5 separate regions of the Homo sapiens genome follow, and all the other regions are linked to region 2. Evidence: fine-mapped QTL for protein levels in blood plasma. A gene starts in region 2. Each other region holds a variant in brackets. All regions are shown on one strand. Distances are from middle to middle.

The links. PIP is the posterior inclusion probability: the model's chance that the variant is causal. The UK Biobank Pharma Proteomics Project read protein levels with antibody pairs (Olink). The fine-mapping took linkage between variants from a reference panel, not from the people measured, so its PIPs are less certain.
Region 1: its variant is fine-mapped to the plasma level of the MPO protein (UK Biobank, PIP 0.96).
Region 3: its variant is fine-mapped to the plasma level of the MPO protein (UK Biobank, PIP above 0.99).
Region 4: its variant is fine-mapped to the plasma level of the MPO protein (UK Biobank, PIP above 0.99).
Region 5: its variant is fine-mapped to the plasma level of the MPO protein (UK Biobank, PIP 0.98).

Annotation. Positions count from the first base shown.
Region 1 is chr17:60,662,239-60,667,416 of GRCh38, reverse strand. It overlaps PPM1D (protein phosphatase, Mg2+/Mn2+ dependent 1D), which reads right to left. Exons shown (of 6, transcript NM_003620.4): 6 at 1,137-4,422. The coding sequence ends at 3,865. It also overlaps the pseudogene RNU6-623P. Among named protein-coding and RNA genes, the nearest start is that of BCAS3, 13 kb to the left of the region's middle. The variant T/G (reference allele first, on the strand shown) is at 2,241.
Region 2 is chr17:58,278,911-58,284,082 of GRCh38, reverse strand. MPO (myeloperoxidase) reads left to right here and starts at 3,148. Exons shown (of 12, transcript NM_000250.2): 1 at 3,148-3,478; 2 at 3,624-3,717; 3 at 4,069-4,244; 4 at 4,437-4,560; 5 at 4,657-4,786; 6 at 4,869-5,075. The coding sequence starts at 3,325. RefSeq lists promoters at 1,868-2,068, 2,114-2,339, 2,224-2,625, 3,018-3,158, 2,564-3,158 and enhancers at 2,198-2,215, 4,800-5,172.
Region 3 is chr17:58,370,400-58,375,399 of GRCh38, reverse strand. RNF43 (ring finger protein 43) reads left to right here. Exons shown (of 10, transcript NM_017763.6): 3 at 4,367-4,489. Among named protein-coding and RNA genes, the nearest start is that of SUPT4H1, 21 kb to the right of the region's middle. The variant C/T (reference allele first, on the strand shown) is at 2,561.
Region 4 is chr17:58,307,928-58,311,363 of GRCh38, reverse strand. It overlaps TSPOAP1 (TSPO associated protein 1), which reads left to right. Exons shown (of 32, transcript NM_004758.4): 19 at 151-528; 20 at 613-852; 21 at 1,206-1,397; 22 at 1,984-2,823; 23 at 3,423-3,436. Among named protein-coding and RNA genes, the nearest start is that of TSPOAP1-AS1, 16 kb to the left of the region's middle. RefSeq lists an enhancer at 1,130-1,829. The variant G/A (reference allele first, on the strand shown) is at 3,152.
Region 5 is chr17:58,297,809-58,302,986 of GRCh38, reverse strand. TSPOAP1 (TSPO associated protein 1) reads left to right here. Exons shown (of 32, transcript NM_004758.4): 32 at 540-1,756. Among named protein-coding and RNA genes, the nearest start is that of MPO, 19 kb to the right of the region's middle. RefSeq lists an enhancer at 1-612. The variant C/G (reference allele first, on the strand shown) is at 2,881.

The DNA.
Region 1 (5,178 bases), 2.4 Mb before region 2:
ATTCTTCTCTGTTTCCATTTGTTTTTGTTTTTTTGTTTTTGTTTTTGCAACGAAGTCTCACTTTGTCACCTAGGCTGGAGTGCAGTGGTACATTCTCAGCTCACTGCAACCTCTGCCTCCCAGGTTCAAGCAATTCTCCTGCCTTAGCCTCCCAAGTAGCTGGGATTACAGGTGTGTGCCACCGCGCCCAGCTAATTTTTGTATGTTTAGTAGAGATGGGGTTTCACCATGTTGGCCAGGCTGGTCTCAAACTCCTGACCTCAGGTGATCCCCCCACCTCAGCCTCCCAAAGAGCTGGGATTACAGGCATGAGCCACCGCACCCGACCTGTTTTCATTTTGTTATTTTGTGTTTTGTGTAAGAGACAGGGCCTAACTATGCTGTCCAGGCTGGAGTCCAATAGCTATTCACAGGTGTGATCATCGCACACTATAGCCTGGAACTCTTGGGCTCAAGCAATCCTCCCACCGCAGCTTCCTGAGTAGCTAGGACTACAGGAATGCACCACCATACCCAGCTTGCTTTCTTTTAACTTTTTTTCCTTTTGCTAAAACTTTTGTTACTTTTATTATTTATTTTTGAGGCAGTGTCTCACTCTGTTGCCCAGGCTGGTGTGCAGTGGTGTGATCACGGCTCACTGAAGCCTCAACCCCCTGGGCCCAAGTGATCCTCCTACCTCAGACTCCAGAGTAGCTGGGACTACAGGCACATGCCACCACACCTGGCTAGTAACGTTCCTACATTCCACTTTTAGTCATAGAACATTGATTCTAAGTAGTCTATAAGTGTATGTACATTGTAATCCCTAATGCAACCACTAATACTGCCTAAATATTTTGTCTCTAAGATTAAAATTTGCCTAGCACTTTGGGAGGCCGAGGCAGGAGGATCACTTGAGGCCAGGAATTTAAGACCAGCCTGAGCAACACAGTGAGACCTTGTCTCTAAGGAAATTTTTAAAATCCACCAGGTGTGGTGATATGCACCTGTAGTCCCAGCTACTCAGGAAGCTGAGATGGGAGGATCACTTGAACCCAGGAGTTAAAGGTTACAGTGACCTATGATTTTGCCACTGCACTCCACATCAGCCTGGGGACAGTGAGACCCTGTTAAAAAAAAAAAAAATTATTCTCAACTTTGTTAGTGAGATAGTTTATTTAGGGACAAAATACATTAAGATGTTTTACTCCACTAGAGCAATCTTCCAGATGTCTGGAAGATGAAAATAACATTGTTCATTAATGCTATTACCAAAACATAACTATTGCACACCCTACTAAAACAATGTTATACACGCTGTATTTCAGAATATCAATGCTTTTAACTTCCAGGTTGTGACAGCCTCCTTCCAGATGACACTTAAAAATGCCCACCTCCTAGAATTCATGCCTTGTGTAGGAGTCTCCCACGTTGTAGTTGACTTGGTCTGTGTGACCAACAAAATACAGAATTGGTATGACACTTTCAGAGGCTAGGTTACAAAAAACATCATGGCTTCTTCCTTGCCCTCCGGTGTTGCTTGCTCTGGGGACAAATAACTGCCATGTTGTGAGAGGCCCTCTGGAGGGGAACATGTGGCAACAAACTGAGGTCTCCTGCCAACAGCTGTGAGTCTTGCGGGAAGCAGATCTTCTAGCCCCAATGACACCTTCGAAAGATTGTAGCCCTGGTTGGTAGCTTGACCAAAACCACGAGACTATCACCCAGCTAAACCACTCTCAGATTTCTGAGGCTCAGAAACTGGAGATAATATTTGTTGTTTTAAACTGCTAAATTTCGAGATATTGTTTTGTAGCAATGAATACATATTTTAATCCTTGTGGCATAAGACACACCGATCAAGAATTATCTTCTGCAAAATATTGAAAATAACCAGAATGTGTGGACATGGTTAAATAATGGCATAGTTGGCTGGGCACGGTGGCTCACACCTGTAATCCCAGCACTTTGGGAGGCCTAGGCTGGTGGATCATGAGGTCAAGAGATCAAGACCATCTTGGCCAACATGATGAAAACCCATCTCTACTAAAAATACAAAACTTAGCCAGGCATGGTGGCACGCACCTGTAGTTCCAGCTACTCAGGAGGCTGAGACATGAAAATCACTTGAACTGAAATGTAAGAAATACATTGAAAGCATAAAACTCAGGCCGGATGCGGTGGCTCACGCCTGTAATCCCAGTACTTTGGGAGGTCGAGGCGGGTGGATCACGAGGTCAGGAGATCAAGACCAGCATGAC[T/G]GACATGTGAAACCCCATCTCTACTAAAAATACAAAAATTGGCTGGGCACAGTGGCGCGTGCCTGTAATCTCAGCTACTCAGGAGGCTGAGGCAGGAGAATCGCAGGAACCCAGAAGGCAGAGGTTGCAGGGAGCCGAGATCACACCACTGCACTCCAGCCTGGATGACAGAGCTAGACTCCATCTCAAAAAAAAAAAAAAAAATTAGCCGGGTGTGGTGGCACACACCTGTAATCCCAGCTTCTGGGGAGAGAGATTGAGGCAGGAGAATCACTTGAACCCGGGAGGCAGAGGTTGCAGTCAGCCGAGATCACGCCACTGCACTCTAGCCTGGATGACAGAGTGAGACTCCATCTCAAACAAACAAACAAAATAATAAATAAATAAAATACACTCACTGTAAAGCATGATCATGGCACAACAGAATGTTAATCCAGGTTAAGCATCCCTAATCTGAAAATCCAAAATCCAAAATGCTCCAGAATCAGAAACTTTTTCAGAGCAGGCATGATGCTCAAAGGAAATGCTCATTAGAGCATTTTGAATTTCAGATTGGGAACACTCAAAAGCTCAGTATAAAGCAAATATTCCAAAATTTTAAAAAATCTGAAACACTTCTGGTCCCAAGCATTTTGGATAAGGGATACTCAACTTGTACATACCATTAAAATAAACCAACAACTACAAATTCAGCAACATGAGGAACAGTTCACTGATTTATTAGATGAATATATACCCATATAATCAATGAAAACTGTATGATATAAAATAATTTAAGAAATGTTGGGAATTAGCAGCACCATCTGTTATTGAAATAGCAAGGAAAACTTCACATATTTTAAGCAAACACGAGAAGGGAGTAACTACTTTAAGACCTAATAATGCCATTGGTCTGGGATGAAAAAGAAGGGAATTGTTTTAGATTGTTTTAGGCAAACACACTTCCTTCTATGCTGAAGATTTAGTAAGCATATCTGATGACTAAGGTTTTAGAAAAATGCTACTGATGTAAGAGATACTGCATAGTATTTTAATTGGGACAAGACTAACTGTAGCATGGCTCAACACTTCTATGAAAAATTTAGTTCTGAATTATGAAATCAGAAATAAAAAATAATGTTTAAAAGACACTTGGCTCTAAGAAACATTAAGTGAAACACAGGTCACTATGAAAATACATCACTTTTCCAGTCTGCTTAATAATTTACTTTAAAAAGTTGCACAGTTTTCAAGACAAGTGGCTTATACAAATTTTTTAATAAGTATTTTAAAAAGTTTAAATGTTTTTCTAAAATCTAATAGATTCTTTTGATTTCTTTAAACATTTAGCCCTATTGTCACAATTACTGTGTATCAGAGACTCTGAATACTGTGTATTCAGAGACTGAATTTGTGTGGATACAAATTTACACAAATTTTACAGCAACTTATACCCTAACATCTACAAAATCCACATTTACAATACAAGCAAGTACAAGGCCAGGATAAAACTGCTGAATTCCAAAAAGTCAAACTGTATATTTCTTTTAATTTTCTCCCCTTAAAAAAAGTTCAACATCGGCACCAAATTTAAAAAGCCCTCTTATATCCTAAGTTTGGAAAAACCTCATTTCCCAGATGCATTTCAGCAAACACAAACAGTTTTCCTGTGTTGATGAAGTAAAGGATTTCCAATTTTCTTCTGGCCCCTAAGTCTGCGTCGCATGGTGAGTTTAACAGAGTTCTTTCGCTGTGAGGTTGTGGGGAGACTTGCAGGCTGAGCACCACTACTTCGACTTAAGCCATTTCGTCTATGCTTCTTCATCAGGGGGCCAGAATTGGACTCTTCTAATGTCCTTTTAAAGTTTGTTGGAGGGGTTCTTTCAATTTCTTGGGCTTTCATTTGGCCAGGAGTTGACATCTTCAAATTTTTTTGGTCCATGACAGTGTTTGTTGAATTAGTAGGCACAAGGCCAATTGGAAGGCTATTATTCAAAGAATCATGTATCCTTAAAGTCAGGGCTTTAGCGCAATTTTCTTCAAGTGGTTCTGGATCTTTTGAGGGTATGACTACACCTTGGACATTCTCTCGAGCTATCTCAGCTGAAACCTCTAAAAAATTCTCTGAGAAGGCATTGCTACGAACCAGGGCAGGTATATGGTCCTTAGAATTCACCCTTGGCCATGGATCCTCCTCCAGTGACTGAAAAATAAGAAGGTAAAACAAATAAGAAAAAATTTATCCCAGAACTCAACAAATCTATGCATGTGATATTAGGCTTCTTATGAAGCTAGTAGGATGGCAAAAACGGGGTATGCATTCACTAATTCGTTCACCTTCTATTTACTGAACTATGTGTTAAGGTTTAATGGGAGGAACCTGAGTGAGAAGACAATATAAAGGTAAGAATGACATTGAATTCTGTCTTCAGGGTAATAGATGAAATTATAAAGTAATCTATTCAAGTGGGTGAAAATTCACGTGGTCACAAGCATTTTCTATCCATTGGCAGGTAAACAAAAATAAGATACATTAAGGAACAAGATTTCAAAACAAACCCTCAAAATTAACCATAGGCACACATTCACTCTTCCACTATTCTGTACTCAAACATGGAGAAGATCAAAAGTATCGCATTCTCTGTGTGCATTTTAATTTACTTTTGGTAATAACATAATGCTGATGAAATCGCTCTATTTTTCATAAAAGTCATATTTTTCCATAAGAACCATCAAAAAATTGCTTTAAGATGCCATTAAGTGCTTACTACAGCAGCACATATACTAAAATTGGAATGATACAAAGAAGATTAGCATGGCCCCTGTGCAAAGATGACACAAATTCATGAAGCGTTCCCTATTTCAAAAAAGAAAAAAAAGCTTTTAAAGATCTCAATTTTTGGCCGGGCACACTGGCTAACCCCTGTAATCCCAGCACTTTGGGAGGTCGAGGCGGGCA
Region 2 (5,172 bases):
ACCCTCTCCCTGTGTTGGAACTGAGTGAAGCCGACAGTGTCATTCTCTGGGCCCAGAATGCTCTTCCTCTGTGTCTACTTGGTCAGCTTTGAGACATTCTTCAAGACAGTCTCCAGAATCAATTCCTCAAGAAAGCCTTCACTGACCTCCCCCAGTTGATCCAAGTGCTGCTCTTCGCTGCTCCCTAAGGTCCCTGCATTGGTTCTGGGGGTGCCATTTGTTTGCCTTTCTGCTCCCCTCTGTGAGCTCCTTGAGGATAAGGCTCATGCTTTGCTCAGTGGAGAATGCTCAATGCCCAGCGCAGCACCTGACAAGGGCTCAGTAAATACTTGTTGAAGGAATCATTGAATGACAAGGGCTCAGTAAATACTTGTTGAAGAAATCATTGAATGAAAGGTCAGGAACAGGTGTCCAGAGGCTACTGGGTAAAGAGCACTGGTTTGGAAGTCAGGAGACTGGGCATGGAGATTATTCTGAACTGTGTCACACTGCTGACCTTGGTCAAGTCGTTTCCTTCCCTGGGCTCCTTCTTTCTCAGCTCTACAATAAGGGGCTTGCATTAAATATCTCTCCCCTGTTGAGCCTTGACAATTCCCTTAAAAGAGCGAAAGGACACTCAAGCATACTCAAGGTTGACAAGGGTGACAGGGGACAGGTGCTCTCATGCATGGCTGATGGGAGGATGAGGTAAAATCTTCAGCAGGCCATTTGACTATCAATATTAAAAAGCCCTAAAACACGCATACCCAAATACGCAGGAATTTTACTTCTTGCCTAAGGAAATAATTGACGATGTGGCGAGAGATTTAACTCCATGGATGCTTATCCTAGTACTACTTATAATAATGAAAATCAGAAACAACTCTAAGTATCTAATGAGATAGAATTAGTTAATAAATCATATAAAATAGTTATATGAAATATTATACAGACATAAAAATGAAGTAAACCTGTATTTATTGACACAGGGAGATGCTCAGACTAAAATTGTTAAGTACCGAAAGTAGATGGTAAAACAATATTTAAAGTTCTTCTTATCAATATTTAAAAATATATATTATGTTTACATATAGGATATCAAATTCTTAAATGAGGTATTGGTGAGTGGTGGGATTATGGGCAATTATTTTCCTTCCTATTGTTTATTTATGTGAAGACAATGATAAACCTTGAAAGAAAAAAGTACCCACAATCTCACTTGATGATGAGTAATTTTGATTTATTTTTATTTTTGCATACTCGTGTTCTCAAACTTTTCATCAGTGAAAATTATATTACTTAAAGGATTGAAAAATCATTTCCAAAAGCCTCTAAAATTCTAGAGCTTGATTCACAAAGAGCCACTCGACCAACTTCACACACAGCAAGTCACTGGCAGGGCAAAAGCTTGGTTCCCCTTCTCAGCAGGGGACAGAATCCCTGGACACACTGGGAAGATATTCTGGGTGTTGCTGTCCCTTGTCCCTTGGCCAAGAGGTGGTCTGGGCATAGAAGACAAGAGTGGGCCGGGCGCGGTGGCTCACGCCTGTAATCCCAACAGTGGGTGGATCAGGAGGAGGTCAGGAGTTTGAGACCAGCCTGGCCAACATGTTGAAACCCCATCTCTACTAAAAATACAAAATATTAGCCGGGCATGGTGGCGGGCGCCTGTAATCCCAGCTACTTGGGAGGCTGAGGCAGGAGAATTGCTTGAACCCAGGAGGCAGAGGTTGCAGTGAGCCGAGATTGCACCACTGTACTCCAGCTCCGCCAACAGTGAGAGACCCTGTCTCAAAAAAAAAAAAAAAAAAAAAGAGTGGGTGGCGGGAAGGTGGCTGAAGGTAGGAGGGGGAACCTAAATGGGACATGGGAGGCATGGTTGGCACGAGCTCAGCCTGACCAGGGCCCAGAGAGGTAGACTGATTCAGTCAAAAGTCGTAGTACTTTTCCTGCTGAGATTGGTGGCCCTTTTGCTGGGCTTTCTCAAGCAAGAAATATCCTCTTCTGTTTCAGAATTATTCTGAATCATTAACCCAAGTCCTCCCAACTGCACTGATCCTGTCCCAGAGAGGCCCTGGGCTGCATCACCTAACTGATCACTAACCACAACCAGTTCTGCTCTCTCCTGGTTCCTGAAATCCAGGAGCAGATGGTGGTGGGGAGGAGGAGTTTGGAGACAGCCCTCTACCAGAAGCCAAGAAGAAAGGGGAGTGAGGAGGGATAGAGGAAGTTATCTTGGTCCTGCGCCCACAGTCCCCAGGGTCCTCCTTCCTGTGAAGCCCAACGGTCTCCAGCCAGATTTCCTGTCCCCTTAGCCCCACCAAGAACCAGAGGCTGCCCATTGGGTGGCTGTTGGATGCAGGTTACTGTTGGAGTGGGGGATGGCCACCTGAGGCCAATTGGGTCATCTTTACTCCAGGTCTCCCTTTCATCCTCCTGTCTTCCCTGGGGGCACTCTATTCCCTGCAATTCCTTGGGCTACCAGTTCCTGACTTTTGTTCCTTTCAAAGGAACCCTGGATAACCAGTGTAACCAGAATTTCAGAGGGGTTAGTTGTGTGTATCCCCTGGGGACAAGCACTGGTATAGGCACACAATGGTGAGCTGAGAAATCTTGGGCTGGTAGTGCTAAATTCAAAGGCTGGGGACAGGCTGGGGCCAGTGGCTCATGCCTGTAATCCCAGCACTTTGGGAGGCTGAGGCGGGTGGATCACTTGAGGTCAGGAGTTCAAGACCAGCCTGGCCAACATGGTGAAACCCTGTATCTACTAAAAATACAAAAATTAGCTTCTTGCCTAAGGAAAAATACAAAAATTACTTCTTGCCTAAGGAAATAATTGATGATGTGGCTAGAGGCTAGGGCGTGGTGGCGGGCACCTGTAATCCCAGCTACTCGGGAGGCTGAGGCAGAAGAATCGCTTGAACCATTGCACATCAGCCTGGGCAACAGAGCAAGATAACGTCTCAAAAAAAAAAAAAAAAAAGGCTGGGGACAATGCTGGCCCCTCCTTTCCTGCCCCTTCCCCCCATTTCAGGGGCCCCTCTGTGTGTACCTTCCAACCCCAGTGGGGGAGGAGAAAGAGTTCAGTCTCCAGGATCAGACCTTCCTCTACCTCACCCCACCCCCAGCTTAGAGGACATAAAAGCGCAGATTGAGCTAAGAGGAGCTGACAATATCAGGTGAGCTGTGGAGGTGGGGTCCTTGGAAGCTGGATGACAGCAGCTGGCAAGGGGATAAGAGAGCAGTGAGCCCCTCCCTCAAGGAGGTCTGGCTTTATCCATAGACAGGGCCCTCTGAGGTGGGGCTGAGGTACAAAGGGGGATTGAGCAGCCCAGGAGAAGAGAGATGGGGGTTCCCTTCTTCTCTTCTCTCAGATGCATGGTGGACTTAGGACCTTGCTGGGCTGGGGGTCTCACTGCAGAGATGAAGCTGCTTCTGGCCCTAGCAGGGCTCCTGGCCATTCTGGCCACGCCCCAGCCCTCTGAAGGTGCTGCTCCAGGTAACAGTTCCCAAGGTGGGAGAAGATGGTGTGTTGGGGTGGTTGTGTTCCAGAGACCCCTTTTCTCAGAGCAGGCCTTCCTAGCTCTGGGGCCTGATAGGGGGTTGGGGCCCATTCCTGACTTTGTGATCCCTGCTCTGGGCAGCTGTCCTGGGGGAGGTGGACACCTCGTTGGTGCTGAGCTCCATGGAGGAGGCCAAGCAGCTGGTGGACAAGGCCTACAAGGAGCGGCGGGAAAGGTGGGGCACGAGGCACTGCCCAGCTCTGGGCAAGGATGTCCCAGGCCTTTCAGAGAAGCAGCAGGCAGCAGGGAGCTTGAAGGTGGGAGAGGGGGACTATGGGGACCCATGTGGACTCCCTTTCTGTCTGTCTGTCCCTGTGTTTCTGGATGGGAGAACAGCTTAAAAGCCATCCTTCCCAAAGCCTTGCCTCTGTCTGGACACCCAGGTCCATATCCTTTTTATAAAAGGAAGCCTTCCTCCCACCCGTGGGCCTGCCTGCATGGTCCTGCATGTCTGCCCCTGGGCTGGGGCTCTGCTGGGTGGGTCTGTATCCCTTCTCTGGCCCTCACTCCTCCTTTCTCCAAGCAGCATCAAGCAGCGGCTTCGCAGCGGCTCAGCCAGCCCCATGGAACTCCTATCCTACTTCAAGCAGCCGGTGGCAGCCACCAGGACGGCGGTGAGGGCCGCTGACTACCTGCACGTGGCTCTAGACCTGCTGGAGAGGAAGCTGCGGTCCCTGTGGCGAAGGCCATTCAATGTCACTGGTACTGTTGCCCATCACACCCCAGGTCCCTGCTCCACTAGTGACTCCTCCTAGGGACCCCAGCCGTCTCTCAGTGATCCCCTCAACTTCTTCCTCCAGGGAGTCTCAGGAGTCTCCAGGGCTCCTCAGCCTCAGGTTGCCTGGGATAGGAAGTGAGGCGGCTCAGCTCCCCCATTGTTCTTTCCCCCGGCAGATGTGCTGACGCCCGCCCAGCTGAATGTGTTGTCCAAGTCAAGCGGCTGCGCCTACCAGGACGTGGGGGTGACTTGCCCGGAGCAGGACAAATACCGCACCATCACCGGGATGTGCAACAACAGGTGCGGCTGGCTGGGGGTGGCTGCAGGAACCGGGCTCAGAGAGGCGTCCCGGACGCCACAAGCCTCCCGGTGTCAGCGCCCTGTCCTCCCCTGCAGACGCAGCCCCACGCTGGGGGCCTCCAACCGTGCCTTTGTGCGCTGGCTGCCGGCGGAGTATGAGGACGGCTTCTCTCTTCCCTACGGCTGGACGCCCGGGGTCAAGCGCAACGGCTTCCCGGTGGCTCTGGTGAGCGCCGGCGGGCAGAGGGGGCGAGGCCCGGCCACGCGGTGCGCGGACCCAGGCGCCAGCTGATCTCCGTGTCCCGCAGGCTCGCGCGGTCTCCAACGAGATCGTGCGCTTCCCCACTGATCAGCTGACTCCGGACCAGGAGCGCTCACTCATGTTCATGCAATGGGGCCAGCTGTTGGACCACGACCTCGACTTCACCCCTGAGCCGGCCGCCCGGGCCTCCTTCGTCACTGGCGTCAACTGCGAGACCAGCTGCGTTCAGCAGCCGCCCTGCTTCCCGCTCAAGGTGGCCCTGCTTCCCGCCCACTGCCTGGGTTGGGAGAGGGGAGATTGTTTCTGGAAGGGGCCATCTCCCTTCTGTGCCCAGGTTTCCTTTCCCAGAC
Region 3 (5,000 bases), 91 kb before region 2:
ACAAGTTATTATTTCTGGAACATAGGTCGCAAGGTGGGAAGAGATATAGGATGGGAATGTTAAGCCATGAGGCAGGGCCCAGACCAGGCAGAGCCTTTTCAGCTATGTTTAAGAGTACAGACTTTATTTCAGGAGCTATGAGGAGCCTTGTAAGAGCTGCAAGTAGAAGAGTAACGTGCTCAAGTTAGCATTTTAGACCACTTTGGCTGCAATATAGAGAACGAATGGGATGAAGTGACCCTAGGGAGTAGGTTATTTCGGTAAATAGGGTTGGCAGTGATGGTGGCCTGTATTACAATAGCGATAGTGAGAATGGAAGAAAGAATAAAATAAGACAAATATTTAGGAGGTAGAATTGTTAGAATTTGGCGATTGATTGGATATTGGTGGTTAGAGTGGGGGTGAAGGAGATGGAGGCTAGGAGGACAGCATCTTGCTTGGGTAATAGATGGATGATGGTTCCAATCCCAGAGACAGCAAACACTGGAGGAGCAGTTTTGGGGATAGAATGAGTTCAGTCTTGAGCATGCTGAGTTTGAGGTGTTCTACTTAAGATTATTAAGGTAGAAACGTCCAGGGTTAGACATAAGGGTCTGGAGCTCAAGAGAAGACCAAACTGTACATATGTAATCACTGACCTCTGTGTGGGCACCGTAGCCATGGGATTGGCTGCTGTCACCCAGAGAAGTCATCAAGAGTGAAAAGAGGGGGCCAGACACGGTGGCTCATGCCTGTAATCCCAGCACTGTAGGAGGCCGAGGCAGGCAGATCATGAGGTCAGGAGTTCAAGACCAACCTGGCCAACATAGTGAAACCCCATCTCTACTAAAAATACAAAAATTAGCCAGACATGGTGGCGGGCGCCTGTAGTCCCAGCTACTTGGGAGGCTGAGGCAGGAGAATTGCTTGAACCCAGGAGGTGGAGGTTGCAGCAAGCCAAGATTGCACCACTGCACTCCAGCCTGGGTGACACAGCGAGACTCTGTCTCAAAAAAAAAAAAAAAAGAAGAGTGAAAAGAGAGGAGGGTCTAAGAATCCCGGGGGTCACCATCAACATTTTAGGGACTTGTATTTGGGTCCTTATGCTTTAGTAAGATAAATTTTCTTAGTAAATGAGTTCGGGGAAGGTATCATGTTTTCAAAATAAAATGTAAATTGTTCTTAAATATTTTTTTAACCTTATCCTACTACTACTTTCCTTTTTTTTTCTAATCTCTACCACTTACTAGCTGTGTAATCTTGGGCATGTTATTTAACCTTTTAGTGCCTCAGTTTCCTCATCTTTAAAATGGGAACAATAACAATCTCTACCTGATAGTGTTGTTATGAGGATGAAAAGAGTTAATATGAAAAAGTGCATAGAACAATCACTGGCCCACAGTATTTACCCAATAAATATAAACTGTACTGTCCCCATCCTGACTATCATTAGCATGGAGATGGATGGAGGGTTGCTGGATGGAGGGTTCATTTGGAGCTCCATGGCTCCGACAATGGAGTCAGGCAGAGTTGAGTTCAAATCTTGTGTGACCTTGATTTCTCTCAGCCTCAAGCTTCTCTTCTTTAAGTGGCTATGATAGGGGTAGTGGGGAGATGGAGATGGTTAATGGGTTTTAAAAAAAAAGTTAAAATGAATGAATAAGGCCTAGTATTTGATAGTACAATGGGGTGACTATAGTCAACAATAATTTTATTGTACATTTAAAAATAACTAAAAGAGTATAATTGAATTGTTTGTAATACAAGGGATTAATGCTTGAGGAGATGGATATTCCATTCTCCATGATGTGATTATTACACATTGCATGCCTATATCAAAACATATCATGTATCCCATAAATATATACACCTACTATGTGCACATAAAAATTAAATAATTGTTTTTAAAAATGGCTATAACACCTACCTTATGGTGAAATAATGTCTAAAAGCTCTGGCACACAAGAGGCCTTTATTGATGTTTAATTTCCTTCCATTCCTTCTTCCATAGTTGTTAATTCGGAACCAGGCAAGTTTGGTGGCTCATACCAGGTTTTTTTTCCCTTCCACCTTGTCAGAGGTATCCTACAATGCAGCACTGAGCTGTAGATGCTGGTTCCCTGTTCAAACCTGGGGAAGAGTGCTGTTTAAATATCTGCAGACACACTGTAGGAACTTCTCCAAAGTGACTTTCCTCTCCCAGGCGACCCTCTGGTCAGTGAGCGGCATCTTGGAGTCATCAGGAGAAGGCTGGACCATGTGGGGAGGGTCGAGGAGCAAGCAGAGCAGAACCTTCTGTGGCTGCGATTTGTCCTTCCTCAGGGAAGGCCTCCATCTTCTGCTCTGGTGGAGCAGCTGCCTTCAGATTCCCCACCACACCAGAGTCTCCTCCACAGTCTTCAGAGAAATTGGTCTCCAGTGCAAATCTGTGGTCTCAGCTCTGTGGCCTGACTCTTGCAGATCCTTCCAGCCTTATGTCCTGCCTTCCCTTTCGTGCCAGACCTCACTGCCCACAGTCTACCTCAGCCTCGTGCTAGGCCTCTGTTCCTTGGTGCAGTGGCTTCCTCTGCCAGGAATGTGG[C/T]TCCCCAACCCCGCTCCCTTTCATTGGTCCCTGAGGTGAACACATACCTAGTTAGCCTTCCAGGTAGCTCTCCAGTCACCTCTTGTGAAAACTGCTCTGCTTCCCATATGTATTGTTAGCTGCCCCTCTTTGTGCCCTCCCATAGGCCCCTTGCATTGTAACATCACGATGTGTTTGCATGCTTGTCTTTTGAGCTGCTTTAAGGCAAGGAGCCTCTCTTACTCATCATTAGCTCCTCACTGCATTGGACAGAGCCTGACACCAAGGGGGCCTTCCGTGCTGGCAGAACAAAGAAATGAATGGATGCATGGACAGATAGAGAGACTAATGCAGCTTGTTGAGACAGGGGCTACAGCTTCACTGATGTAAGAACAACTCCACCCTCATGCCCCAGCCTTTTTCTTGGGGCAGGGGCACATGATAACCTTTCTCCCACACTAAACCTTGCTCACTACCAGACTAGTAGGCCTTAAACTCTGGGAGCAAGAATGGAACTCCTTCCTATCTCAACACCCCCTGCCCAGAGATTTTGATTCAAAGCAAGGTAGTAGATAGTTATTGAGAACCTACTATGTTCAAGGGACCGCGGTGACACAGTGAGAGGAAATAGCCTGAAAGAGCTTTCAGAAAGTGTGCTTTTAAATCCATCATTGACATTATCTTCATAAACATCTTTATAAATTCAAGATTCTCTGTGGTTCCTCTGATGGTTCTTTCTGGAAGTCCTTCAGACATCAACAGTAGTAGAGGGGGAAGTGTGGGCAGCTCTCTAATAAGAAATCTCTTTCTTGCCAGGATATGTGGGGTTTCTACTATATAGGAGTCCCTGGACCATAGGATTATTCAGGGCCAAATAAGTCATACTTTGTTCTCATTGCACTCTGACATTTTGTTTAGGGAAAATTAGATTCAAATGGGTGTACAAATCGCTGTGAATGAGAAGAGAGAGTAAGGTGGTCTCACCCCTTTGATGAGGAGAGCCTCAGATTTCTGTCAGCACGTTCTCCTTTAGTCATTGTTCAGCACCAGCTGGGCTCAGAGGCACAGGGTCTTGGACAGGATCTGCCCTTAGAGCAGATGGGCTGGGCTGGCTCCACCTCCACGGCATCATTCCTGGGACCAGGGTGAGCTGTCAAAGCTTATGTCTTAGCCAAGCCTCATTGCAAGATAGTCTCACCTCTCTGTCAACACCATGCTTGATCCCAGGATGGGTACAGGGCAGAGGCAAAAAAGGGGCTAGTGAGAGAAGCAAGGTAGCACCGAGTGAGATGACCCAGCCTCCTGAGAAATGGGAATCTACAGGGCAACAGTTGCCTGGGGGCATCCCGAGGAGGCAGGAGGCACCAGCAGCATCCAGCACTGCCCATGGGCATTCTGAAAGCACTGATGCAGGCACACATGGATATTCTCTTAGCCTGGGGCTTGGGGAGCAGGTAGAAGGATCAGGAGGTAGAGAGGCTGGGGCCAGGAGAGGAGCCCTCTGCGTCTGGCCAGTTTAGAGAAGTAGGATTGTTGGAGTTGAAGGTTGTTAGAGTTGCTTTGCAGCAAGCTCTTCATTTAGGTCCCCTCTGGGACACCCTCTCCCTCCTATCTGCCTCCACTACCTGTGTCCTTGGCCCCAGCATCCTGAAGTGACAAACAGTGGTCACTAGCTTACTAAGAGGCAATCCAATCATAAGGCCTACTCTTTTACAGCACCAAGAGACCTGCCTGGTACCTCCCTAGAAAAATGGAGAGGTATATGGCTCTCACAGCTCACTCCTGCTGCCTAAAGCCTCCCTAACCCAAGTCTGTCTCTCTCTGCAGTCCCACCCGCTGTACCTGTGCAATGCCAGTGATGACGACAATCTGGAGCCTGGATTCATCAGCATCGTCAAGCTGGAGAGTCCTCGACGGGCCCCCCGCCCCTGCCTGTCACTGGCTAGCAAGGTAGACTCACACTTCGCCCTACACACACCCGGAGCTTCACCCAGCTCTGGGCTGTGAGAAGACCCTGTGCTCTCTTGTCCCCATGTTTCCTAAGAGTGATGTACCTGATTCCCTTGGGTTTCCCTAACCCATGACTGGTCTGAGAGAAGTGGAAATTCACACCTCTGTTTTTTCTCCTCCGACTAGCACCAGCAGGACTTTTTGACCTTCATCCCAGCATGCTCCCCATCCCACCTCCTTCCCATCACTTGGGAGTTCCTGAGTCCCTTCCCCTGCTCTGCACCAGAGCAAAGAAGGGGTCAATTGAAGGGATTTCCATCTTTTAGAAACATACACTGAGCACTGTGCAAGAACAGCAGAAATAGAAACCATTGCCCCACCCTTAAAAAGTTCACACTTTTCCCCTGAGGTTGCAAACTGGTGGCCCATAAGCTGGGTTTGGCTTGCAGACATGTTGTGTTTAACCCTCACAGCGACTTTTCAATGTGTATATTAATTGCCACATTTAAAA
Region 4 (3,436 bases), 28 kb before region 2:
AATGAGATAGGCCATGCAGAGGGCTTAGCACAGTACCTGGCGTAATGCTAGCTGCCACTGCTGTCAGTTAGCTGCCACTGCTGTCAGTGCATCCTCACGCTTGGCTGTCTCAGCCTCTGCTTCCCATCCTGTGCCCCCTCCACCCTGCAGATCATGGAGGTGGCCTCACCCACGGCAGGCAGTGTACTGGTGGAGTTGTCCCAGCTGCAGCTGCTGCAGGTGTGTCGTGAGGTGGTCGTGCGCACCATGTCGCCCCACGGGGAGTCGGCGGACTCCATCCCGGCTCCTATCACTCCCGCCCTGGCTCCGGCCAGCCTGCCAGCCCGAGTCTCCTGCCCCTCACCGCACCCAAGCCCAGAGGCCAGAGCGCCCCTTGCTTCAGCCTCCCCAGGGCCTGGAGACCCCAGCTCTCCTCTCCAGCACCCTGCTCCCCTTGGAACTCAAGAGCCTCCAGGAGCACCCCCTGCAAGCCCTTCCAGAGAGATGGCAAAAGGGTCCCACGAGGACCCTCCAGCACCTTGCTCCCAGGTACCCTGTCTGGGGAGAGGGGAGCAGGTGCAGGCTGGCAGAGGGACCTGGGCTTGGGTCCTTCCTCAGTGCTCTCTGTTCCAGGAGGAGGCTGGGGCAGCAGTGCTGGGCACCTCAGAGGAGAGGACAGCCAGCACATCTACCCTGGGTGAGAAGGACCCTGGCCCCGCAGCTCCCTCACTGGCCAAGCAGGAGGCCGAGTGGACTGCAGGAGAGGCCTGTCCGGCCTCCAGCTCCACCCAGGGAGCACGGGCCCAGCAGGCGCCAAATACCGAGATGTGCCAAGGAGGAGACCCAGGGTCTGGGCTGAGGCCCAGGGCTGAGGTAGGGGTTTGGGGACACACTGTGTCACTTCAGAGAATTGAGGCCTGTCTCCCTACCTTTTGCCAGCGCAAATCCAGTTGCCCTCTCTGCCTGTCCTCTGCTCTGGTCCTGCTCTCACACCTTTGGCTGTGCTATGTGTCTGTTTTTCTTCTAGGATTTCTCTGTCCCATGTGGCTCCCATCTCCCTTCTCCCACCCTGCCCCTGAGCCATGGTGTGCCTCCCCCATTTAGGACATGGCTCTTTCTCCCTCTGCCAAAGGACCCTTGTTACTGTGGCTGGGGCTGACCCTGCCTGGAACCCCCTGTGCCCCCTCACTGTCCTTATCTCTCCTGCCTTGCCTCACTTCTTGCAGAAGGAGGACACAGCAGAGCTTGGGGTTCATCTGGTGAACTCCCTCGTGGACCACGGCCGCAACTCAGACCTGTCAGACATCCAGGAGGAAGAGGAAGAGGAGGAGGAGGAGGAGGAAGAGGAGCTGGGTTCCAGGACTTGCTCCTTCCAGAAGCAGGTTGCTGGCAACAGCATCAGGGAGAATGGGGCCAAGGTAACGGGGTAGGGATGGGCTGTTGGGCCCCAGGCCTCAAACTCCGGGGCCTCCCCACTGTGTGTCAGCAGGTGCTCTGACCACCACTGAGTGCCAGAAACATTCTAGGTCTGTGGCCTGGGCCCTGTCCTAAGCAGAAGATAGGAAGTGCCCCAGGATTGGCCCCTGCCCTCCTGGAAAGAAAGGGGAAGGGGAGGAGTTCATTTCTGTACCTTCTCTCCCTCCAGCCCACCAGATACAGCGCCCTGGCCAGGGGAGGCCGGTGCCACCTAAGATCCTTGTGCTGGTAGCTTCTGGGGAGGGGATGGGGAGGCCTGCTCCTCAATGCTCCTGTCCCACAGGGGCTGGTGATGGTTCCTAGAGTGTGTTCCCTAATTCTTCCTTTGGCTCTCACTGGATATGTGTGTGAATTTGGGCCAGCCACCGTCCCTCTGGTTCTCTCCTCTCGGAGGAAGCCGTGGGAGGGCTGTGGGGTTGTCCGTAACCCCTGCCTTCGTTTGAGGGCAAAGATCGCAGCTCGCTCTCCTCTTCCCCACGCATCTCTCTTCCCTGCTGTGTTCTACTCCCACCTCCCCACCTCCACCAGTCCCAGCCCGACCCCTTTTGTGAGACTGACAGCGATGAGGAGATCTTGGAGCAGATCCTGGAGCTGCCCCTCCAGCAGTTCTGTAGCAAGAAGCTCTTTAGCATCCCGGAGGAGGAGGAAGAGGAAGAGGAGGACGAGGAGGAGGAGAAGTCAGGGGCAGGCTGTTCTTCCCGAGACCCTGGCCCGCCTGAACCTGCATTGCTGGGGCTGGGCTGTGACAGTGGTCAGCCCCGAAGACCTGGCCAGTGTCCCTTGTCTCCTGAGTCCTCCAGGGCTGGAGACTGCCTGGAAGACATGCCTGGATTAGTTGGTGGAAGCAGCCGGAGGAGAGGAGGGGGCTCCCCTGAGAAGCCCCCAAGCCGCAGGCGGCCTCCAGATCCCCGAGAACACTGCAGCCGACTTCTCAGCAACAATGGGCCCCAGGCCTCTGGACGACTGGGCCCCACACGGGAGAGGGGTGGCCTCCCCGTAATTGAGGGCCCCAGGACTGGACTAGAGGCTAGCGGGAGAGGCCGGCTGGGCCCTTCCCGGAGGTGCTCCCGTGGCCGGGCGCTGGAGCCTGGCCTGGCCAGCTGCCTTTCCCCCAAGTGCTTGGAAATCAGCATTGAATATGATTCGGAGGATGAGCAGGAGGCGGGCAGCGGGGGCATCAGCATCACCAGCTCCTGCTACCCTGGAGATGGGGAGGCCTGGGGCACAGCAACTGTAGGAAGGCCCAGGGGGCCTCCGAAGGCCAATTCAGGCCCCAAGCCCTACCCACGCCTCCCAGCCTGGGAGAAAGGGGAACCAGAGCGGAGAGGCCGCAGTGCGACGGGCAGAGCCAAGGAGCCACTCTCCCGGGTCCGTGCTCACTCCCCGCCCTGGGCAGCCCCTGCCTGCTGCCACCTGGTGGCCCTGCTTGCTGCCCACCAGCAGCTCCCATTCCACGCTGCCTGCCTCCATCAGCAGAGGTGGGGCCGGGCCTCCGGGCTCCCTCACCTGCCTCCTCCCACCCACATTCCACTGCTTTGCTGCTTCTGCTGATCAGGACTGGGATGCACAATATTCTATCACTAGTCGCCTGTTGCGGCCTGTGGGCAGGGTCGCCCTTTCCTCTGCATAGCTAGTAATGGCTTCAGGACGCTGACTGTGATGCCATGTCCAGGGTTACCTGCCCTGATGCTGACGG[G/A]AGGCCCTCCTCTCGCGGGCTCCTCAGCCAACTCCAGTCCCCTCTACTCCATTCATCTACTCGCAGGCTGGGGCTGGGGCCTCCCCTCCTGCCCTCCCTCCCACTGTGGGGGTGTCTGAGGTCTCCAGCAGGCTGGGCCGAGGCTCCGGGAGAGGAATGCTGTGCTCCTGCGCTGCTGTGCTGCTTACGCTGATGGGGCAGAGCTGGGGGAGCACGAGCCCACCAGAGGGATGGTGTGTTACTTTTGCCATCTGTTGCCCTCTTTTTGCAGGCAACAGAGACCGG
Region 5 (5,178 bases), 19 kb before region 2:
TCCTCCCCATGGAGTGGGTACTGGCTCCACACCCTGAAGGCCTGGGGGGGCCACATCTGCTGGGTTTGGGGAGACGCTCTTTCTGTCTATGAGGGGCTGTAGAAGCTACCTTCCTGGGCAGTGACAGCTGCTTCTAAGCAGTCCTTGTCCTTGCGCTCCATGTTTTTGGAGGGAGGTGACATGTGAGAAGTTGGGGGCACCCATCCTGAGGGGCAGGTTCCAAGAACTCTTGGGCCCTGTCAGCCCTGCACCCTGGAGGGAGAAGGGAAGGGGCCTGCCCAGGGTCACAGGTGAGCGATCCAGAACCGAGACTGCATCCCCTGGGACTCCCAGCTTAGTGCTCCCTCGGCATCACCCTCCCCATTCACCACCTGTGCTGTGTGTTTCTGACAGTGGTGGGAGGTGAGGCCCTGGTTCTCAGCGTCAGCCATGGTTCTGTGACATGGGAGGCTGCAGGCCCCTTAGGCTGTGGAAAAAATGGGTCAGGGGGTCAGGAGGGAATCAGGCCCTGACCTTGCTCCTTCTGTCTCACATTTCAGGACTGGGGCTGCACCACACAAGGGTCCCCAGGGCCCCCAGGTGGGCCTTGTACCCCCAGCTCTGGCAGCGCCCCCAGGATTGAACGTGGGGAGCCCCAGGGCAGAAGCGAGAAGGTGTGGGGTTTCTTCTCCAAGGGGAAGCAGCTCCTCAGGAGGCTGGGCTCTGGGAAGAAGGAGTGAAGCTGTGGCCCATCCTGCAGGCAGAAGAGGCCCTGAGAGGCCCCCAGATCACTGTCTCTGCTGAGCAGGGAAGGCTCAGACTGGGCCCAGAGCCCCCGTTCTTCTGCGTTAACACTGTGGCATTCAGAGGGAATCAAAGAGCCTTGGTGAAGGTCAGAGCTAAATGGCTCCTTAAGGATGAACTCTCTAGAGAAGCACCTTCCTCCTACAGGAGGGGAAACTGAGCCCACAGTGAGTATGTAACTTGACCAAGGTCACTGAGCCAGGACTGGACCCAGGACCCTCGCGTCCTGGTCCACCCACCTCGTCTACTAGTGTCCCACAGTGCTGCGCTAGTCCCTTCTGCCACCCTTCCCAGTCCCAGGACGGGCCCTGGAGGGAGAAAGGAGCCTGTGCCCCCTGATGGCTCTGGCTGTCCTGATCCTGTCTTCCCTCCCCTGAAGGAAAGTTTGCACTGGATTTTATTGGAGCCCCATCTCCCCAGCGGGCAGGCGGGCGGAGCCTGTATATATGTATATACTCAGTGCCTCAGTTCAGCTTCCTCCACCTCGCTTCCACTGCACAGGCCCAGGAAGGAGAAAGGCCAAGCCAAAGTGGGCCCCACCCTGCCCCCGTCGTGCTCCATCCTTCCCTGCCGGGGCCTGCTGGCCCCTGTAAGGTCCCGCCCCCAAAGACCCTGGGGCCAGCGGGGCCGAAAGCGGAGTTGGGTTTGCCTTATTTTGCTCATTGGATTCAAGTTCTTTTGCATAGTTTTCTTCTAACCCCTGTTGGAGTCCAGGGGCTGGAGAAAAGGACAGATTTATGCAGCTATTTTCATACATTCCCTGTTCAGAGTGGGGTAGGGGTTCTCCGCCGTTACCCGATCCACTCCATCCCCCACCCTCTGAGGGGTGAGTGTGTCTTTGCATGTTTCCTTTGCTGTGGTGGGAGATAGTTTGACTGAACCCCCACCTTGACCTTGGTCTCCAGGGGTGTGGAATGGTGGGGGAATTTGTTTAAAAAGACATTTTATTATAATAAAGTCTATTTTCACAAAATCTATGCTGGACTCTCCATGGGCAAAGGACTCCTTGGAGGGGTGGGGCAGCTGGGCTTTGGACTCTGGACTTCAGACCCCAGAAGTTACATCCTAAGGCTAACAGGGGCAAAAACCAATCAACACCACGAGCTTTTGAATCCTTTTCCTAAGAAGGTGGTTTGGTAGCTTCCTGAGCCCGTGGTCACAGGGTCAGATATTTGCTACTGGGGCTGGGGTTGTGGAGGAAGATGGGACAGACGGGAAACACACAGAGGGAAAGCACCAGTTTCAAGATGGTGGACTGAACACACACTGCAGTCTTTCTCCTCTATACCAAATGCACAGAAATAATAGACATGAGAGAAATAGAACAAATAAACACTATACACAGTTCCATTTGAAAGCAAGAAAGGGGACTCTCAGTAGACTAAAAACAACAGGATTCTGGAAAAGACAAGAACAGATGGCAGATCATACTGAGAAACTTGAGAGTAGGGTATATGTGGGAGAGCTCTGCACGTTGCCTCTGGACTAGAGGCAGTGCAAACAGGGCAGAAGAGACCCTAGGGGCTACCGATGGTGTGGTTAGTTGGGGTTTTTCTTTGAATGATTGTTGCACATTCTCCTTCTGCCATGGGCCAAGGGCAAAGGTGAAGATGTCTGCCTTTAGATGACAGACTTAGAGAACAGTAAGGGTTGCAGCTTGGATCAGAGACCAGGTGGTACTTTAGGTGGCTGGCCGCACCTGGCAGAAACAAGATGTATCACCGCCCAGGTGAGAAGCCACCAAACCGCAGCATACTGTGACCCTTCCCTCTCAACCAAAACCCTCAGAATCATGGCAGCAGTTCCCACCCAGCCGTCCAGCAAAGACTCCCAACCACAATGGCAAGAACAGAGTAAAGACTCAAAAAATATTTGAGGAAAGCCAACTTCACTAAGAGAGATAACAAATGGAAATGGAAAAATATACATAAGTCAGTAAAGCATTAGGAGAAAACTTTAAAAAGTCTACAGTTATTGTTGGAGAAATAAAGGAAGGAATTACATATGGGAAACAAGATCAAGTAGTTATGAAAGTGATCCTAATAGAGATCTTGCAAAAAATACATATATTCTTGTTAAAAAAGGACTCAATATATG[C/G]GTGAAGAGCATATAATTCATAGTTGGATACAATTAGTAAGCTTGAATTTTGAGGTAAGTAATTCCCTCAGAGTGCTGTACAAAGGGATAAAAGAGATGAGCAAAATGAAAGAAAAGTTATACATGGAGGATGGGGTCAAATGTTTCAATACCTATTCATAAGAATACCCTGGGGTTGGGAAGATGTGGGGAGAAATAGAGACCATGAGTGATAGAACAAATAATGGCTATAAATTTTCTAGGACTGAAGAAAGACACAGATACTTAGATTCAAAGGACTCACTGCATGTGAAGCTGATAAATAGATTACAAGTACAGAAAAAAAAAGAGAAGCAATCCAATTCAATGTTTGAGACTTGAATAATCTTGTCACCCAATCTAGAACAGGACAAGAAAACATTATGACAGATCTATCTGGTTTATGAACACAGAATATCCTAAATATAGCTTTAGGAAATTAAATATACATCATGGCTGTAGCATTTTTAATTTTGTTTTTTTTTTTTTTTTGAGACAGGGTCTCGCTCTGTCACCTAGGCAGGAGTACAGTGGCATGATCACAGCTCACTGCAGCCTTGACTTCCTGGGCACAAATGATCTTCTCACCTCAGCCTCCTGAGTAGCTGGGAGTATAGGCACATGCCACCATGCCCAACTAATTTAAAAACAATTTTTAAGAGATGGAGTCTTGCTATGTTACCCAGGCTGGTCTTGAACTCCTGGCCTCAAGTGATTCTCTTGCCTTGGCCTTCTAAACTGTTGGGATTACAGACATGAGCCACTGTACCTGGCCTGTAGCATTTATCTTAATAAGGCAAAAGTGTTTCACCATTTTATTATTAAATTGATTAATTCTATTATTCTATGTTAATAGAATTCACTACTTTAACAGATCAAAGGAGAAAAATCACATGCTCACTTCAAGATGTTGAAAAATCATTTGATAAGTGAAAGCATCCTTTCATAGTTTCTAAATATATAGCAGATAAGAAAAATAAGGAAATTGGGTGGAATCTTATCTGCATGTACCCCATTTGCACTGCAGCTGTGGGACCCTGGAAGACAGCCTACTCTGGGTTTTATACCTCAGGAGCATCAGGACTCTCTGGGATAAAGCCTTGAAGGACATCTGTCTTCTGTTGGGGGACTGGAAGAGAGCCCAGGCTGTTCTGGTCAGTTCCTCCCTATCTCAGGATGTTGTATTCCCAGCAAATTTTACAGTCATTCTTGATAACTACAAACAACAAAGGGGAAGAACTGGGTTGGTCTAAGGCTACCTGGAGAACTGTCCTGCAAAGAAAAAATCTAGGATGAAGAAATACGATTGAGTTTTGTATACTGATTTTGTATCCTGCAACCTTGCTAAACTCACTTATTAGTTCTAGTAGCTTTTTTCTCGGTTATTCTTTGGAATTTTTAAAGCAATTTGTTATCTGGGAATGGAGACAGTTTTATTTCTTCCTTTACAATTTGTATGACATTAATTTTTTTCCTTGCCTATTGCACTGGCCAGGACCTCCTGTACAATGTTGACTAGAAGTGGTGAAAACAGATATCCTTGCTTTGTTCCTAATCTTAGGGGGAAGGCATTCAATTGTTCACCATTAAGAATGATTTTCATTGAGTTTTTCTGTTTTGTTTTTATAGATGCCCTTTGTCAGGCAGAGAAAGTTCCTTTTGTTTTTTCCTAGATTGCAGAGAGGTTTTATCAAAACTGGATGTTAAATTTTGTCAAATGTTTGTTCTGCATCTATTAAGATGATCAAATGTCTTTTTTTTCTTTACGCTGTTGATAAGCTGAATTAAATTGATTTTTCAAAAGTTGAAATAGATTTGTACTCCCAGGATAAACCCCATTTGTTATGATTTTTTTATATTGCTGAATTCAATTTGCTACTCTTTTGTTGAGGAATTTTGCATGTGTTTTCATGAGTTATCTTGTTCTGTAGTATTCTTTTATTGTAATGTCCATGTCAGGTTTTAATATCAGAATACAGTTAGCCTCATAAAATGAGGTGGAAAGTTTCTATGACATTCTATATCATGGAAGAGATTGTGTAGAACTAGCATTATATCTCCCTTTTTTTTTTTTTTTTTTTTTTGAGACGGAGTTTTGCTCTGTCGCCCAGGCTGGAGTGCAATGGTGCGGTCTTGGCTCACTGCAACCTCCACCTCCCAGGTTTAAGCGATTCTCCTGCCACAGTCTCTTGAGTAGCTTTGATTATAGGCATGTGCCACCACACCCGGCTAATTTTTGTATTTTTAGTAGAGACAGGGTTTCACCATGTTGACCAGGCT